2 separate regions of the Homo sapiens genome follow, and region 2 is linked to region 1. Evidence: fine-mapped expression QTL. A gene starts in region 1. The other region holds a variant in brackets. All regions are shown on one strand. Distances are from middle to middle.

Region 1 (8,677 bases):
ACAGCCTCCGGAGTGGCTGCACCTTCTCATACTCCCTTGCAGAGAACAAGGGTTCCTCTTCCCCCCCTACTCCAGCTAACACTTGGCATTAGCTGACTTTCTAATTTTTGCTGACCTGATGAGTGTACAGAGTAAAGTTTCATGTTGAACTTTTAAAACAAAGGGGGAAAATACAGAGGGAAAAGAATAGGAAGGAAAGTGGTTAGGAGGGAAGGAAATGGCAGCTGGCTAAGTGGGAAGAATTGGGAAGTCAAGTTTTCTGGACTGCACAGTACCCTACAGAATCCTAGGGGCCATCAGAGCAGCTGCAGGTCACCTTGTGGAAAAGTGCAAAATACAGTTTAGACATTTGGAATTTGGCTTCCTGGCAGCCTGGCTGGAAGGTGTTGGTTCCACAGGGCCAAGGCTGGCTGTGCCTGCCTCCCTCTGGGTCCTGGAAGCTGAGGGAGGTGGACCAGCCTCCAGCTCCCAGGTTCTTATGCTCCTCCTATTTATCTCTCAGTCCTTTCCTGGCAGCCAGAGAGTCCATCTTTAGCGGGGACCTGTACAGTATTGTTTTAATCTTCAGCTCTCTCTGCTTCCTCTCTGTTCCCTTCCTCCCTTCCTCTTCTCCTTGTCTACCACACAGAACAGATGTGGAAAAAGCCAGGCCTTTAGGAACATCTGCTGAGACACCAGCTGCCTTCCTCCTGGGCTAAGGAAACTGTGACCCCTCTGATTATTGGGTTTCATCCAAGGACCTCAGTTCTCTGGCCAGAATATTTGCATCGAAGTCAGCAAGGTCTTCTAGCTATTTAAGAGAATTTGCTAAATCCCTGAAGATCTGTACATATAGAAGGAAGGGAGAGATGCTATTTTTTAAACATTGGCTGCAGTTGGAGCTGGCTGGCCCAGAAGTGCAGAATTCCCAATGCTTCCCAAGGAGCATGCATCACTCTCGGAAATACCTGGACACATAGGAGAGGTATAGGAAAAATGAGTTGAGTTGTTCTGATTAAGAAAGGAACTGCAATTTGGAACTTGATCAGCAGCTGCATGCTGACTGCTAGAGGAAGAAGGGTTTGTTTCTGTTTTTGTTTCTTTGTTTTTTTGGGAGGGGACAAAGTGATTTCTGAAAGAGAATGAGAGGGCCTAGAAGTAAAAATGAGGCAGAGGGAATTGGAGGAGGAAATGGCCAGTGATAAATTCCTCCTAGCAGGAGTTCCCCGCCCAGATGGGGACTTCAGTGTAGAATCATTTACTTTGGGGATGACACCTCTTGTTAACTGCAGACCTGCAGGAAACATCTGCTAAACTTGACAGCTGTGAGCTGCTGGTGGTCATTGAAAGACCAGCATTAAGTTGACAGGCAGAAAGAAAACACAGTCCCGGGGGAAGAAAGGAATGAGATGGGAGTGCTCAGTGTGAACAGGAAATCAGAGCCAGGGATGACCAGTAAAATATAAGCCCTGGGGGAATCTAGAAACATCTTGGAAAGGGCCCAAGGCTTTTCCATAACATGTGGACTGGGAGGCTCTCGGGAAGGACCCCAGACTGGTGAACTTGGGAATATGCAAGCTGAAGGCATCTGGGATACACGAGTGGGTGCACACACGCACATGCGCACACACGCACATGCACACTCACACGCACACATGCACACACTGCAGATCCCCTAGAGTAGTGGTCCTCAACCTTGGCTGCACATTTGAATTGCCTGGGGCTTTAAAAAATGCCAGAGCCTACCCTCACCCCAATGCCACCAAACCAATGACATCAGAATCTGTGGGAATCAGACCCACACGTCAGGTTTTCAAAGCTCCCAGGGCTGAGCAGCATTGTTCTACAGCCTGACAGCTCCAGCTGCCTGGAGAGCAGATGCCATTTACAGTCTCCTGCAACCAAAGACTCGCCTGAACCATCGTGCCCTTCCATCACACACCATACCCAGGCCTTCTCCCTTCCTTTCTCACCACCTCCCCTACCCGCTTCCCAACAGATCTCCTCCCACAGTCACAAGATAAGACACAGGCGCCCAGTGGAATTTAAGCCTGAGAGAAACCACAAATAATTTTGTTTAATATAAGTATGAGTTGTGTAAAATTAGTAGATGTCATGCAACATACTCATACTAAAAGTTATTTGTGATTTCTCTAAAATTCAAATTTAACCAGGCATCCTGTGTTTTTAGTTGCTAAATCTGACAATCCTAGATAGAGACAACTTAAAAACAAATAGAGAGTGTCCTTCCTCGACAAGGGACAGAGATCTGGTACCACCACTAGCACTAGACCCAGAGTCAAAGCCCAGGGCTCCTGGGCTGAGGCCCCTGGGAGAATCAGCAAAGCTTTTCGCCTTCCCCACACGTGCTGTGGGCGCGCAGTACTGCAAGTTATCACCACCAGAGGGCGCACTCTGAGTAGGCGGGAGGAGCCCGCAGGGACAAGACCCCAATCCACAGATGCTTAGAGAGACAGTGAGGGCGCAATCCCCAAAGGAGCATTAGTGTTCAACTGGTGGGGTCCAGGGACATTTCTTCCTCTTCTAAACTAAATGATCCCGAAGACACCTGAGATTCAATGAGAGAGAAGGGTGAGCCCGGGGTAGAATGGTAAGACTCAAAACCTGGCAGGTTTCTTTTACAGTGATTTATTGCTTTGATTTTTAAAAATTGCACAAATAAAATAGACCATTCAGAATTAAACGTGGAAGTCCTCCTTTTAATGTCCCCATTCACCTGCCTCGCATGTGTGTCATGGATCTTCCTAGATCTACTTCTACGCACGTGAGTGCGTGTGTGTGTGTGTGAGTGTGTCTGTGTGAGTGTGTGTGTATGTGTGTGTAATATGGGTTTGTTGGTTAAATTCTTTACACAAATCCCATCAGAATATGTATGTAGATAATTTCTAGAAATTTCTTTTTTCATCTAATAGATTTTGAGGAGGATCACTCTGTGACATAGGCAATATTAATTTCATTTACTCTTCACAATGACCCTATGAGGTAGGGGCTAGTGTTATCGTCCGTTATACAGATGGAGAAACTGTGACACAGAAAGGCTAAGTGAGTTGCACAAGATCACACAGCAAGTAAGTGGCAAAGCTGGGATTGAAACCTAGGCTATCTGGCTTTGGAGCACGAATGCTTAATCACTCTTCTGCAATACTTGGCTTTAACCACTGCATCACAGTCTAGCCTAGAGATGGACCATAGTATATTTATAACCACTGCCCTTTTGATCCATATGCAGGCTGTGTCCAGGGTTCCACTAGTATAAAAAAGGATGCAGAGAAGAGCTTTGTGCAGCAGCCAGAGGGGTTCTTGCAGGGTAGTGGCCCAGCTGTGGAGTATGCACAGGTTACATTCCAATAAATACTGTTAGATTTTATTCCCAAGAGGTTGAAACTTTCCCATTCCCAGCAGTTGTGTTAGTGTGCCCATCCCCCTTGGTGCCATCGAGGGCATGCAGGCAGAAGGAACAGCCTGTGGAGAGGGGCGTGGATATGGTTTGGGGAATGGCAAGAAGTCCAGTGAGGCTGAAGGTTGGGTTGTAGTTGCTGGTTGCGAATGTAATCTATTTTATGCTCTGCAAATTTGATACACGATACCACGATATTTCATTGTAGTTTTTGTTTGCATTTCCCCAATTACCAGGAAGCAATATCATCTTTTTGTGTGTTTATGAGCCATTTGTGTTTTTTCTTCTGTAAACTTTATGTTCATATTTTTACACTTTCCCAATGGGATGTTTATCTTCTTGGTTTGTAGGTGCTCTAGTATTATGGGATGTTAGTCTTTTGTCAGTTACATTTGCACGAATATTATCTCATGGCGTGTTGCTCTTACAAACTCAAGTTTTTAGATAGTAACCTGGATTGTCAAATGCGACAAGACGGTTTCTCAGTCACAGCTGTGGAATGTGTAACGAGACAACCTCTCTGAAGGGCAGCTTGGTAATAGATACCAAATGTGCTTTAAATCGTGTACACTTGCTGATGCTGGTATTCTATATCCATCCTAAGGAAAGATCAGGGATAAAGACAGCAAGTTAGCTCTGAAGATGGTCATTCCAGTTTTGTTAATGATGTAACAATTTGAGAACCTTTACATGTCCAGTAATAGCGCATTGGAAAAATCAATTACATCTTAATCACTGGCAGGAATATAATGTTACCATGAAAAAAGATGCAATAAAACTGTGTTTTTGACTGTACTAGTAAATGAAAAAATTGATAGCATGAAAGATTTTGTCCAGTATTATTCCATTTTTGTAAAAATGTTTAAAGTTCAGGCTGATAAGATATACCCCAAAATGTTGATAATGATTTTTCTCTGCATGGAGCTATTATGGGGTAATCTTTACTGTCTTATTTTTGCTACTCTAAATTTTTTTTAAATTTCTACAAATAATATTAATTACTTTTATAATAAATATATATTTTTAAAATTATACATACATATATATATACACACACGTATGCATATATTTATACCTAATTTTTTCTTTTGACTATTGGTGGTAGACAGCTCCCAGATGATCCACAGGCCCTCAGTGAAACTTACCTCCTGTTATTCATGCTTTTGTGTCCTCTTTTCTCAAACTGAATCAGAGCTGGTCAGTGTTACCAGTAGAATACTGCAGAAGTGATGGTGTGTCACATCCAAGGCTAAGTCATAAGGGCATTGTGACTTCAACCTTTGCTCTTGGATCACTTGCCCTGGGGAAGCAGCTACCATGTTGTGAGGCTGCTCAAGTAGCCTTGTGGAGAGGTCCACCTGGAGAGAAAACAAGGCCTTTGCCGCAGCCGGCACCAACTTGCCAACCATCTGAGTCAGCCACCTTGGAAGTGGATCCTCCAGCCTCATTCCAGCCTTCAGATGACCACTGTCCCAGCTCATATCTAGACTGCAACCTCATGAGAGACCTGGAGCCAGAACACCCAGCTAAGCTGTTCCTGAATTCCCGACTCACAGAGACTGTGAAAGATAATATATGTTTGTGTCTGTTTTAAGTCACTAAGTTTTGGCTGTTGCCTAACAGTAGATAGCTGATATAAAGCTTAGTACCAGAAGTGGGGTGCTGATGGAACATAAACCTACCAATGTGGGAGCGTCTTTGGAACTGAGCAGAGGGCAGAAGCTGAAAGGACTTTGAAGAAAGTGTCAGAGAAAGCCTAAAGGGCACTGGAGAAGCCAGTAGTGGGAGGAGAATGTTGGTGAGGGTTTATAGGAAAGTGAGAACAATGCATTAGAGACTGGAAGAAAGGTGATTCTTGTTATGGAGAGGCAGAAATTAAGCAACACTGCAACAAGATGGAAAGCTCATAAATTGAATGATCTAGCTAAGGAGACTTTTAGGCAAGCCCAGATATTGGGCTCTTCCACTAAGAGTATCTTGCTACAAATATAAAAGAACCAGAAAATGCAGCCCTGCCCTTGGCCTTGGCCTCTGGGCGCCATCTCACTCAGTAGCATGAACTGTGCCCACTGGCCTCCTTGCAAGTGACTGATGCAGAAGGTGGAGAGTTGTCATGCTTGCTGGTTCCCAGGATGGTTCTCAGAAAGCTTGGAACTGAGGTGGAATCATGTTCGTGTTCCTCCCAGAGTATAGAGCAGTTAGACTCTCGGTACATTTCTGGAGAGAGATGGGGGTGAAGAGTGCTCAAGGGAAGAATTGAATCAATGCTCCCAGCACTCCACCCTGCCCATGGGAAGTCAGGTTGCACAGAGGCTAACCTGAAAACTCAGTCACAATGCTCCCTGGATCTGATCATATTTAGGGTATACTTTGGGGTGCCTGGGCCCCTCAGCAGGTGGGTCTGGACAGAGGCTGCACACTGCAGGTTCCTCCCATGTTTTTCTTCCTAAGGATGGAACCACTCACATGCATGATACTCACACACATGACACTCACACGCATGCCGTCTCTCCTTGGGATACCTGACGGTCTGAGCTTTAAAGTAATTTACCTTTATTTACCTGTAATGAACATTCGTCCCGCTTTCTTCTTGTCCAGTGCTTCAAACATCTTTTCTTTGGGGAGCTCCTGCCTCCTCAGTCCCTGACTGTCTAGAGGAGCCAGAAACTCTATTTCTCAGACAGGAGGGTGCAGGCATGTGACCAAACTCACCATACAGATGTACCTGCACCAGACTCAGATTCAGAGCCAGGGGCTCCAGGACGAAGCAAGGTCCCATGGGCTCCACCCTGGCGGGGAGGCGACATTGGAAGCCCCTTTGCAGTTGCCCTACTCAGGGCAGGCTGCCGTGTTGTTTCCTGGAGCTGCTCTGCAGTAGGTGGCACGTTTGGGCCATATTCTAGAGCCCAGTTCCCAGGTCATTCAAAAGATGCTGGGGCCCCCAAGTAGCCAGTGATAAATCCCATTTCTGCTTAAACTCAATACAAGTGGTTTCTGTTGTTTGCAACCAAGCCTGCCTGAGGCCTTCTACTGGCGCTGCACCTTTGCAAGGGAGACATTTGGTGTGATATATAACAGCAACTTTGGGACGAATTCCACTCTACCAGACACAGCTGGGAGCAGAACAATCCCAGATACCTCTTCGGGTAAATGGACCCCTAACTAGGGAAATGCATTTTTTAATGTGCTTTTTAAATCACTTGGAATGCCCTGACCTCCCCACCTCCTCCTCTGTCCCACTCGGGTCCACCCTCCACATCACGGCCAGTGTGATCTTTCTCCACAATGATCTGGTGGTGCTACTCCCCATGTGACACCTGCGCTGGGTGTCTCTGTCCCCACCCCATCTTCCTCCTCCCTGCTGTGCCCACCCAGCCATGCCATGGGGACAATCACTCTTGCTCTCTGGCTTCAAGTGGGGTTTGGCCAATGGGAGCATGGGCAGGCCCTCACAGGGCAGGAAGAATGGACTTGGACATCTGTTACCCCCGGTCCTTCCCTGCCAGGTTACCACAGGTAGGCTGTGTCCCTTTACTGCAGACTCATATGTGCTTCTCCACACAGCCACCCTCTCTGGGTTCTGATAGCCACTCCCTGGCCTCCTCTCTTCGGGTCTAGGGGTAGGCACAGCTCCCCAAAGAGACAGTAGCACCTCACAGCTGTGTCAGTCCCAGGCATGCTCCATGCTCTGCTGGCTTCCCTAACCCCGTCCACCCCTTTGCAGACAGCGTCTTTATCAACCCACACTTCAGTTACCCATCTTAGTGTGTCATCTGTGTCCTGTTAGGGCCCTGGCTGAGACAACAGCCTTCACTCAATGTTTAGGTTTTGTGCAAGACGCAATTCCTTCAGGACTAAGCTGAGATTTCAAGACCCTATGAGATCTGGCCCCTGCCAGCCTTTCCTGCTCATCTGTCCTTCCCTGACTATGCCAGGCTTTCTCCCTCCCTGCCTTTGCCACTCCACCAAGGCCCTCACCCAGGAGCACCCTCACTCTTCTGGCCTGCCGCTGCAGAGATGTCTGCTCTAGGCAGCTGTGCAGGCCAACTAATGCCCACCACAAAATGTCCATGTCCCAATCCCTGGAACTCAGGAATGCTACCTTCTATGACAAAAGGAACTTTGCAGGTGTGGGTAAGGATGTGGAGATGGCAAGAGTGTCCTAGATTATCCAGATGGGCCTTAAATGTCATCACAAGTGTCCATAATGAGGGAGGCTGACGGGCATTTGAGTGCAGCAGGGAAGGCCGTGTGATGTTGGGTGCAGAGGTTGCAGGGGTGCATTTTGAAGAAGGAGAAGGGGGCTGCAGGCAAGGATGCAGGCAGCCTCCCAAAGCTGAACAGGGCCAGGAAGCGATTCTCCCCTGGAGCCTCCGGAAAAGACCAGCTCAGATGACACCTATAGCCAGGGAAACTGATTTCACACTTAACGACCTTCAGTGTCATAAGAGAATACATTTATGTTGTTTTAAGCCACTAAGGTAGTGGTAATCTGTTACAACAGCCATGAGAAACTAATCAGATGCCTTTCCCAATCCCAGACTGGGCAGGCGGACCCCTCTGAGTTTCTGCCACCCGTACTCACTCTGAGTGGCACCTGTCAATCCGTATCAGACCTGCAGTTTACCTGTTGATCTTGCCACCAGATCCCGAGGCAGGGGTTGTGCCTTTTCATGTCTGTTTCACCAGCACCTGCAGAGAGCCCAGCACGCGGTGTGGCATAAATGAAAAGTTGAAGGACAAATTGCATACTTGGCATTGTCACTCACCAACTGAAATTCCACAAAGCAGGGATGCTTACTTATGATTTTCAGGAATCTAATAAACTCTTCCTGGTGACCCATCAGACACCAAAGTGGGCTCCTTGGACACTGGTTGTCGGTTTTCTACGATGCTCCACTGGGACTGAGTCAGAGCTGGACTCCTGTCCTCCTGTGACTGAATTAATTCCTCTGATACAGCCCCCATCCTCAGGGTCCCAGGGAGTGTGAATTTTGGGAAGTGTCTCATATAGCATGGAAAGTGGAGCAAAGGGCCTGGGCATGTGCACGCCACCGCTTTCTTTTCTCTCTGCCCCATTTTCTCCTTTCTATCCCCGCCCCCCCCCGCCCCGACATTCAGGGACAGGGACTGCAGCTTTGTCCCTGCCCAGAGCTCCCCTATCACGCGCTGGCTGAGGCTGCAGGGTGTGCAGCCTTCTCTGCACGCTTTGCCCTCTCGGTCCCAGCATGGGGACTGGGCAGGAGGCCCACAGCTGCTCAAGGGGCTGGGGGAAACTCA
Region 2 (8,647 bases), 53 kb before region 1:
AAATCTGAAATCATGTGAATGAACTCTTTCTACTCCGTCACTTTAAGATGCAGTGGTCTGGCTTGCCCTTTGAATGGGTCTTTTACCCATGCACGATTTGATAACATCACGTATTTTATTCATTTGGAAACTATTGCTTCGCTGCCTCCCCCGCAGATCTTTCAAATATTGACACATTTCATTATACAGTATCAAAAACCATATGCCTCCATATCACCACAGATCTCATGGGAGAAGCGTAATGGGAAGTTGCCACCCTCATAGTTGCAGATAAAATTTTCCAAACTTCTAATTTTCACTTAGCTTGAATTTTATCATTGGCAACAAGTACTGTTAATTGCTTTCTTTGAAGTGCCAGCCTCATTTTGTTACTTTTTGGGAAAACATCTGCCAGAAAACCTATCTAAATAACCATGGGTTGTGCTGTCTGTGTGTGTGTGTGTGTGTGTGTGTGTGTGTGTGTGAATTCTTTCAAGTAAAATGAGTGTTCCATGAAAAAAGTGGCTATTTCAGCTCAAACAATCACATGTGCTTCTCCTTGTCATTACCTTCAACCATTGTGCTTTGGTAGGCAGCCGGAGTGAGAAGTGCTTTATGCATACTTTCCATTTTTTCACACAGATTATTAAAAAGACATGCATTCAAGGGTTGAGAATTTTTTAATTAATAATTTTACTGCTTCATTTGGGAGGCCGAGGCATGTGGATCACTTGAGGTCAGGAGTTCAAGACCAGCCTGGCCAACATGGTGAAACCCTGTCTCTACTAAAAATACAAAAAAAAAAAAAATTAGCTGGGCATGGGTGGCACATGCCTGTAGTCCCAACTACTCAGGAGGCTGAGGCATGAGAATCACTTGAACCCGGGAAGCAGAGGTTGCCGTGAGCCGAGATTGGCCACTCCACAGTCAAGCCTGGGCGACAGAGTGAGACTCCATCTCAAAAAAAAAAACAAAAAATCAACAACAACAACAAAAAAACAAATTTTACTGCTTCATTAAGAGTATTTCTAAGTGAAACTGGCATGTGTTTTAATGCAAGTAGGTGATAAGAAGAATACAATGAGTACCTGTACACTTCGGGGCCACTCCCTTGATTCATACTAAGGTGTAAGCAGTTTTACCACCGCAGGTGTAAATGACAACACAATGAAAAAAGAAATAATATCCCGGAGTTATTATGAAAATAGTTTTCTTTTCTTCTTCTTCTTTTTTTTTTTTTTTTTTTTTTTTTTGAGACAGAGTCTAGCTCTGTCATCCGAGCTGGAGTGCAGTGGCGCGATCTCAGCTCACTGCAAGCTCCACCTCCCGGGTTCACACCATTCTCCTGCCTCAGCCTCCCCAGTAGCTGGGACTACAGGCGCCCGCCACCATGCCCGGCTAATTTTTTTGTATTTTTAGTAGAGACGGGGTTTCACCGTGTTAGCCAGGATGGTCTCGATCCTGACCTCGTGATCTGCCCGCCTCGGCCTCCCAAAGTGCTGGGATTACAGGCTTGAGCCACTGCACCCAGCCCCGAAAATAGTTTTCACTGTGAGGCCCTCTGAAAGGGTTTAGGAGGTCCTCCACGGTTCTGCAGACCACAGTAGGAGAACCATTTAAGTGAGGGGAGTGTAGCAGTCTCTGCACCTCCAGAAACTCCCAATCTGGCTGAGAAGAGAGACCATAAACAGACGTAATTACCATGTCATGTGATGAGGGCCAGTTGGAGCCATGGCAGATAGAGTGATTTGTTTTCCAATGCGGAAGTTAGCAAAGGTTTCACAGTGAATTTTTAAAATGGGTCTTGAGGATTGAGTAGGAGTTCATGCAGAAAGAAAGTGGATCTTTATATTTCTGGTTTCAGAAGGACAGGTCCTAGGAAGGCAAGGCACCAAAAAAATGAAAATAAACAGGACAGTTCATATGATTTTTTTTTTCTTTTGAGATGGAGTCTCATTCTGTCGCCCAGGCTGGAGTGCAGTGGCGTGATCTCTGCTCACTGCAACCTCTGTCTCCCAGGTTCAAGCGATTCTCCTGCCTCAGCCTCCTGAGTAGCTGGGATTACAGGCGCACGCCACCATGCCTAGCTAATTTTCATATTTATAGTAAAGATGAGGTTTCATCATGTTGGCCAGGTTGGTCTTGAACAACTGACTTCAAGTGATCTGTCCCCTTTGGCCTCCCAAAATGCTGAGATTACAGGTGTGAGTCACCTCACCCTGCCCATATGATTAATAAAGAAGAATATTGGCCGCCATCATGGAATACCTATTACATAACCTCACACTTTGCATACATTATATTTACCTCCAAAAACCTATGAAATGCATACAATTATTGTCTTTGTTCAGAGAAGTTAGGAAACTTCCTTAGGGACACAGAGCAAATCCATGAGGAAAATCAAGATTAAAATCAGAATTGGCTTACTCCAAAGCCCACTTTTGTTCTGTTTGCTTACTTCCCTAGAGGAAGCCAAGAGGAAGAGCAGCCTCCTGGGCCACCACTGCTCCAAACTTTAGCTGTCCCCTGATGTTGACCAAATCAAGCCTAGTTCCCCCGACTTGGCATTCAAGGCTTCCCAATGCAACTCCACCTCCCCTTTCTAGCCCCACCTGCTGTGAATTCCCAGTTTAGATACACTGGAATTCTTTCCTCTTACCCAGAGCTATGACCTCCACCAGGAGTCCCTTCCTCCTTTCTCCTTCCATCTTGATTTACTGCTTGAATCCAACCTATCTTTCCAGGCTTACACATCCCTCCTTTCCAATCCTCTCCCCACAATCCCTTTCCTCAGCATTGCTTTTCTGCACTGATGTCATGCATCAAGGTCTGTGCACCAGACTACAGGCTCTATGATGGCTGGGCCCACATGAATCTAAGAATATTATCTCTTGGTTCTTATTCTTGCTTTTTGAGCCTCGGTGTTCCCCTCTGTAAAATGGGGATACTAGCACCCTACCTCATGGGCTTGTGGTGATGATTGAATGCACTAAGGTGTGTGCTGAGAAAACCGCCTGACACATACTGAGTGCCCAATCAATGTGAGTCACTTTTGTTATTATCACAATAATTATTGTTGTTAAATATCACCAGGGGAGGACGAGCCTGTTCCTGCCCCACATCAGTTTCACAGCACACTTTCTCGTAATAAGGGCAGGCTCTGTTAGCACCATTCATTTCAAGCCTGTGAAGAAGCATGAAAATATATTCAGATGTATGTTCCTTTGGTTTGCCTGCAAATAGTTCTTGGTTTTTTTTGTGTTTGTTTTTGCTTTTGTTCTTCCACCCAGGCTGGAATGCAGTGGCTCGATCATAGCTCACTGCAGCCTCCACCTACCAGGCTCAAGCCATCCTTCTACCTCAGCCTCCCAAGTAGCTAGGACCACAGACGCGTGCCACCACAGCTGAGTAAGTTTTTGTATTTTGGGTAGAGAAGGGACTTTGCCATGTTGCCCAGCCCAGGCTGGTCTTGAACTCCTGAGCTCAAGTGATTTGCCTGCCTCGGCCTCCCGAAGTGTTAGGATCACAGGTGTGAGCCACAGCACCCAGTCATGCCTGCAAATAGTTCTATTCCTGGGGGCTTATTTTAGTCGGGTCCCTCTGTTGTGTCCCTAACGAACCCTCCGGACCTGAGAAATGTGGAAATGCCTGAACCAGGCCCTATAGCCAGGTTCTGGGGACAGCTCAGGGCACATGGAGCCCTGATCAAGAATGCAGCGGTGTTGCCATCCTATCAGCTGAGTATCCTTCCGTTTTCAACTTCACACACCCACCCTCCATGGGCTGCTTGGATGAGGTAGCCCATTCAGTCCTGCCGGGCACCCGAAAACAGAAAGATAATCGGCACATTAAACTTTTATCTCCATGGCTGTCACTCTAATAAGCAGACGAGGAAAGCTCCTCTGTCCCCAGGCTCTGACCTGCCTGAAGCAGGCTGATGGGTTGTTGCCAGTGTGCTGGGTTGCTGGGTTTGCTTTTAAGGTTAGCGAACAAAGCACCCCAGAATGCCAGCTGCCCCGGGTTTGGTTACTATGCTCTTGATCCGCGATGAGCTCTTGGCAGTGTGTGGATTCTAGGGAGGACCGGATGTGGTGAGTGGCCTCCAAAGGGCAATTCAAGAAGATCAATCCCATGGAGGCGCCCAGCTCCTGTTTCCAAACACGCTTCCTGGCCTGCAGATACCTTGACGGCAAACTTCATGTAAAGACTTGGTAGAGATGATTCAGCGTTTCCAACATGTTTCATCATCTTTCTAAGGTTGGTACAAAGCTCTAGCCCTATACTGATGCCACCAAGGGGCACCATATCTGTGACCTTGACTAAGCCAAGGTCACCA[C/T]GGCAGTGATGCCAGCACCTTCTACACGCCACCAATGGGTTCAACATTTCACATGCATTGCTAGTTTCATGCTGAGCACAGCCCTCCGTGGAGGGGGGGCTCTGGATATTTGTTTTACAGATGAGGAGACTGCAGCTCAGAGAGGACAGTTCACTTGTTCATAATATACCTCTTCTGGAACCAGAAACAGAGACCAAGCCCACGGTGAACAGATTCCAGAGTGTGAATTCTTTCATCTTCTGTGTCCCCTGAAGGTTTTATTTGCCATCGTGCTTAGCTGAAAAGAGCTGAGAAAAAGTTAGAGCTAATATTTTGGGAGCATCTCTATCTGCACCTTACTGCTTACCCAGGCATTGCCTTGTTGAATCCTAACAGCAGTCCTGTGAAGTAGGATTATCACCCCCAATTTTCAGGAGCAAACTTGGACGCCTCGCTCAACTTGTCGATTGAATCTCCTAAGTCGATTGAATCTCCTAAGTCCACGAATCTTGAGCGGAGCGGGGATCCAGGCTCAGGTCAGCATCCATGGCCTTCTGCCACATGCACTGTTTTGCTGTTGTGCCTAGGACATTTGCTTCTCCCTGGAGTGCTGAGGTCCCACATAATGAGCAAGATTGAGAGGAAAGGGAAGAAGAAAGGGCCGATACCAAAACCAGCTCAGGGTAGGGGACTGCAATAAAGGGGAAGAAGAGCAGGACATGAAAAGGCTGGTCCCTTCCCCATGGGAACAGGGAATTAGGGGAGAGAGTTTGGTACTATGATCATGACTGTTCTCCCTTCATCAGAATTAGAAGTACCTAGCCCTCCAATTCTAGATCTTCCCAAATTTCAGAACTTTGTTAAAGATGAACATTGTCAGGCTGGGTGCGGTGGCTCATGCCTGTAATCCCAACACTCTGGAAGGCCGAGGCAGGCAGATCACAAGATCAGGAGTTCGAGACCAGCCTGGCCAACATGGTGAAACCCCATCTCGACTAAAAATACAAAAATTAGCTAGGCGTGGTGTCAGGCGCCTGTAATCCCAGCTACTTGGGAGGCTGAGGCAGGAGAATCTCTTGAACCCGAGAGGCAGAGGTTGCAGTGAGCTGAGATCACGCCACTGCACTCCAGCCTGGGCGACAGAGTGAGACTCTGTCTCAAAAAAAAAAAAAAAAAAAAAGATGAACATTGTCTGTGGAGCCTCCCTCCAGCCCATACTGAGCCTGATCTCTGCCAGCATTTAGAGCCTGTGCTTCAATCACTCACAGCGTGTACTGTGGTCTGTCTCAGGTGTCTTGGGGTAGAAAATTCCCATTCGATAGGCGGTCTCCATTGAGATAGGAAGTTGCTAAGAGGGAGGACATTGTCCTACTCATTCCTTTCTTGTTCCTCACAGAACTCAGAAGACTAGTGAAAATAGATATGGGCCCAAATAAATACTTGTATTGTATTGTACTTGTATTGTACAAAAAACTGTTCCCATTTTATACAGAAAAACAGAGGCAATGGCAACTCCTATCAATTAGGTCAGTGGCTCTGGGCTTATCCGATTTTCCTTTAACATCAAATCTCCTGATCACTACTAAATCACAAATCAAAAGCCAAGTAAATCTGGATTGATTTTAAAAGGAGGAGAAGGCAGAGAGAAAGAGAGGGAGGAAGGAGAGAGAAGGAATGAAGAGGAAGATGAGGTGGGAGGAAGGGGAGGAAGAAGAATAGGAGGAGGGAAGAGTTGCGGTGAGGGATGAGGAAGAGAGTGGAGAAGATGAGGACTGGGAGGAGGAGAGGGGAGGAGGAAGATGGGGAAGAGATCGTGAGATGGAAGAGGAAGAAGGAGGAGATAAGGAGGAGGGGGGTAGGAGATGAGGAGGAGGGGGTAGGAGATGAGGAGGAGGGGGGTAGGAGATGAGGAGGAGGGGGTAGGAGATGAGGAGGAGGGGGATAGGAGATGAGGAGGAGGAGGGGGGTAGGAGATGAGGAGGAGAAGGGGGGTAGGATATGAGGAGGAGAAGGGGGGTAGGAGATGAGGAGGAGAAGGGGGGTAGGAGATGAGGAGGAGGAGGGGGGTAGGAGATGAGGAGGAGAAGGGGGGTAGGAGATGAGGAGGAGGAGGGGGGTAGGAGATGAAGGGAGGGAGGAGGGAGGACTTGAGGAGAAAAAGAAGGGGGCAGTGGGGGAGAGGAGGAGAGGAAGGAGAGGAGGATTTTGCTCTGGAATGGGGCACAGCTTAAAACTGAAAGTGGGTACAAAATCGGATTGGAGACAGAAATAGCACTCTTTTCTCCAACATGAATTCTATGTTTCCTAATCTAAAAAGGGATTGTTCTGCCACGCAAACCTCCTCTTCTGTGCCTGCCTCACCATGATGCAGGTATATTGACTTCATCAAATGCGGAAGCCTAACTCGCTGTAGAATGAACTACATCAGAAACTCTGCCAGGTTAATCTTGACAGAAATCTGGCGACAAGGTCAAATCTTGAAGCAAAACAAAACAGACAGCCCAGGAATGTGCAGCCCAGCCATCCCTCACTTGGCACAGTGCAGGCAGTCACTGTGAGGGGCTTCCGGTGTGTGGGTGGGAGTGCTTTACTTCCAGGCAATGCCAAACAAGCAGGGTGCTTATCCTTGGGCCCCCAGTGCCCACCACAGTGCCTGACACAGAAGAAGCTCCACAAACATGTCATCTGTTCTCATTTTTGTGTTTACAAACACAGTAAACAGACCACTACATTTAACAACTTTCGTTATGTCAAGATTCGCCAACGAGTCTCAATACTAGCCAGACAGACTTTCTCCACAACATCGTTTTCATATTGATTTATTTTGGCAGTTATTGTTAATAATGAATTTCATATATGATACAGGCATTCTGGGAATGCATCAGTGCCCTTCAAAATGGTGTTTTATGATTCTGATCTTAGCTGAGCCATTCATCTCTGTACCGTCGGATCCAGTTTGGCCACTCCTGGATCTGGAACATAAGCCCCATGCTTTGTTTCTGTCTTTTCTGTCACTTGTCATGGTTTAGAATTATGTATTTGTAGGTTGATTTGTTCTGTGTCTGTTCACCCCCCTAGAAATACAGATGTCCATGAGGGCCAGAATCATTTCTGCTTTGGGCGCCACAGAGTCCTCCATCTTTAGTATATAACCCTGTGCTGATATAATGTATGGCACATCATAGAAGCTTGACAAACATTTACTGAGTGAATGTATGAGGCTGGATTCAATGCCTCTTAACTTCTTAGCTCCCTTTCAATGGGGAGAATCTCAAGCTCCATAACACAGGGAGCTCTTGGCTGTCTGACCCCAAGGGTGCAGTGCTTTGTGAACTGGCTGGTCATGCTATCACAGTCTTAGGACTCCAGATTCCACCCCTAGGGTGGCTGCAGGGCCTATGGCACAGCTTGGACCAGGGGCATCTTGGCTGAGAGGGTGGACTCAGCCTGGGGGGATGGAGGACCGGCCCACCATGGAGCTCTCCTGATACTGCCCCCATCAGGCCAAGCCTGGGAAGAGCATCTCTGACTCCAGTAGGTCCCTGGCTGCTATAGCAGCATGTGCTCCATGCCAGGGCAGGTGTGTGGGGAGCAGCAGGGGGTCTACTCCTCCATGCAGGGGTAACCCTGAGGTTGGGGGAGACATGCACTTCTGAGAAGGTGGGCCACACATAATAATGCTGAGTTAGGTATTGCTGCATCACTGTTCTGCAAGACCTGCCCTGTCATGCAGAGTTGCAGCATGTGCAAGGCAAAGAGGGGGCCAGATCCAGCCTCCAAGGAGAGGTTGGTGAGAGCCAGTGACACCCAGCACACATTCTGGGCTCCAGCCCCAATCCTCCAGGCCGACTTCCTGCTTTTCCTGTTCCCAACACTGTGAAATAACCTCTCCAGTGGCTCCCCAGAATTCTTAGAATGCAACCTGAACTCCCGCAAGGCCTCCCCCTGCAGCCATCCTCGTCCCCGCTGCCCCTCGGTCAGGCCAGGCTTGTTCCCATCTCCAAGCCTTTGCTATTGTTCCCTACCTTGGGACCCTCTTCCTGCCTTGTAGGTCTAAGTGTACCCAGCTCCTTCTTGTTATTTAGGTCTTAGCTCAAATGTCACCTCCCAAGAGAGGCCTCCTCTGATCATCAACTTATCTGCACCCAAAATGATTTTGATCTTGATTTTGCATGTTTGCTTTTTTGTTTGTTGCTTGCTTGCTGGCTAAGCTCCAAGTACTGAAACTGTGCTACCTTTTACTTACTCTTCTTGCCCTACCCCCTAGCACAGGGTAGCACGTGGAAGGCATTAGATAAGTATTTGTATGAATGAGTGAGTGAGTGAAGGCTCAGTTAAATAGCGAGGGCCAAC

Alleles and levels. Positions count from the first base shown, and alleles are read on the strand shown. Sizes are in standard deviations (SD) of each study's normalised expression.
As copies of C replace T in region 2, the expression in subcutaneous fat of the gene that starts at base 4,591 in region 1 goes down (large effect, 0.82 SD a copy in TwinsUK).

What was found. PIP is the estimated chance that this variant, and not a neighbour inherited with it, causes the effect. A credible set is the group of variants that fine-mapping cannot tell apart.
Region 2: its variant is the best candidate, but not a certain one, in a credible set for the expression of LINC02995 in subcutaneous fat (TwinsUK, PIP 0.82).

What each region holds. Positions count from the first base shown.
Region 1 is chr5:173,575,548-173,584,224 of GRCh38, reverse strand. It overlaps LINC02995 (long intergenic non-protein coding RNA 2995), which reads right to left and starts at 4,591. Exons shown (of 4, transcript NR_027108.2): 1 at 4,543-4,591; 2 at 3,850-3,996; 3 at 317-947; 4 at 1-115.
Region 2 is chr5:173,629,040-173,637,686 of GRCh38, reverse strand. No RefSeq gene overlaps it. Among named protein-coding and RNA genes, the nearest start is that of LINC01863, 9.0 kb to the left of the region's middle. RefSeq lists enhancers at 3,557-4,756, 8,605-8,647. The variant C/T (reference allele first, on the strand shown) is at 4,316.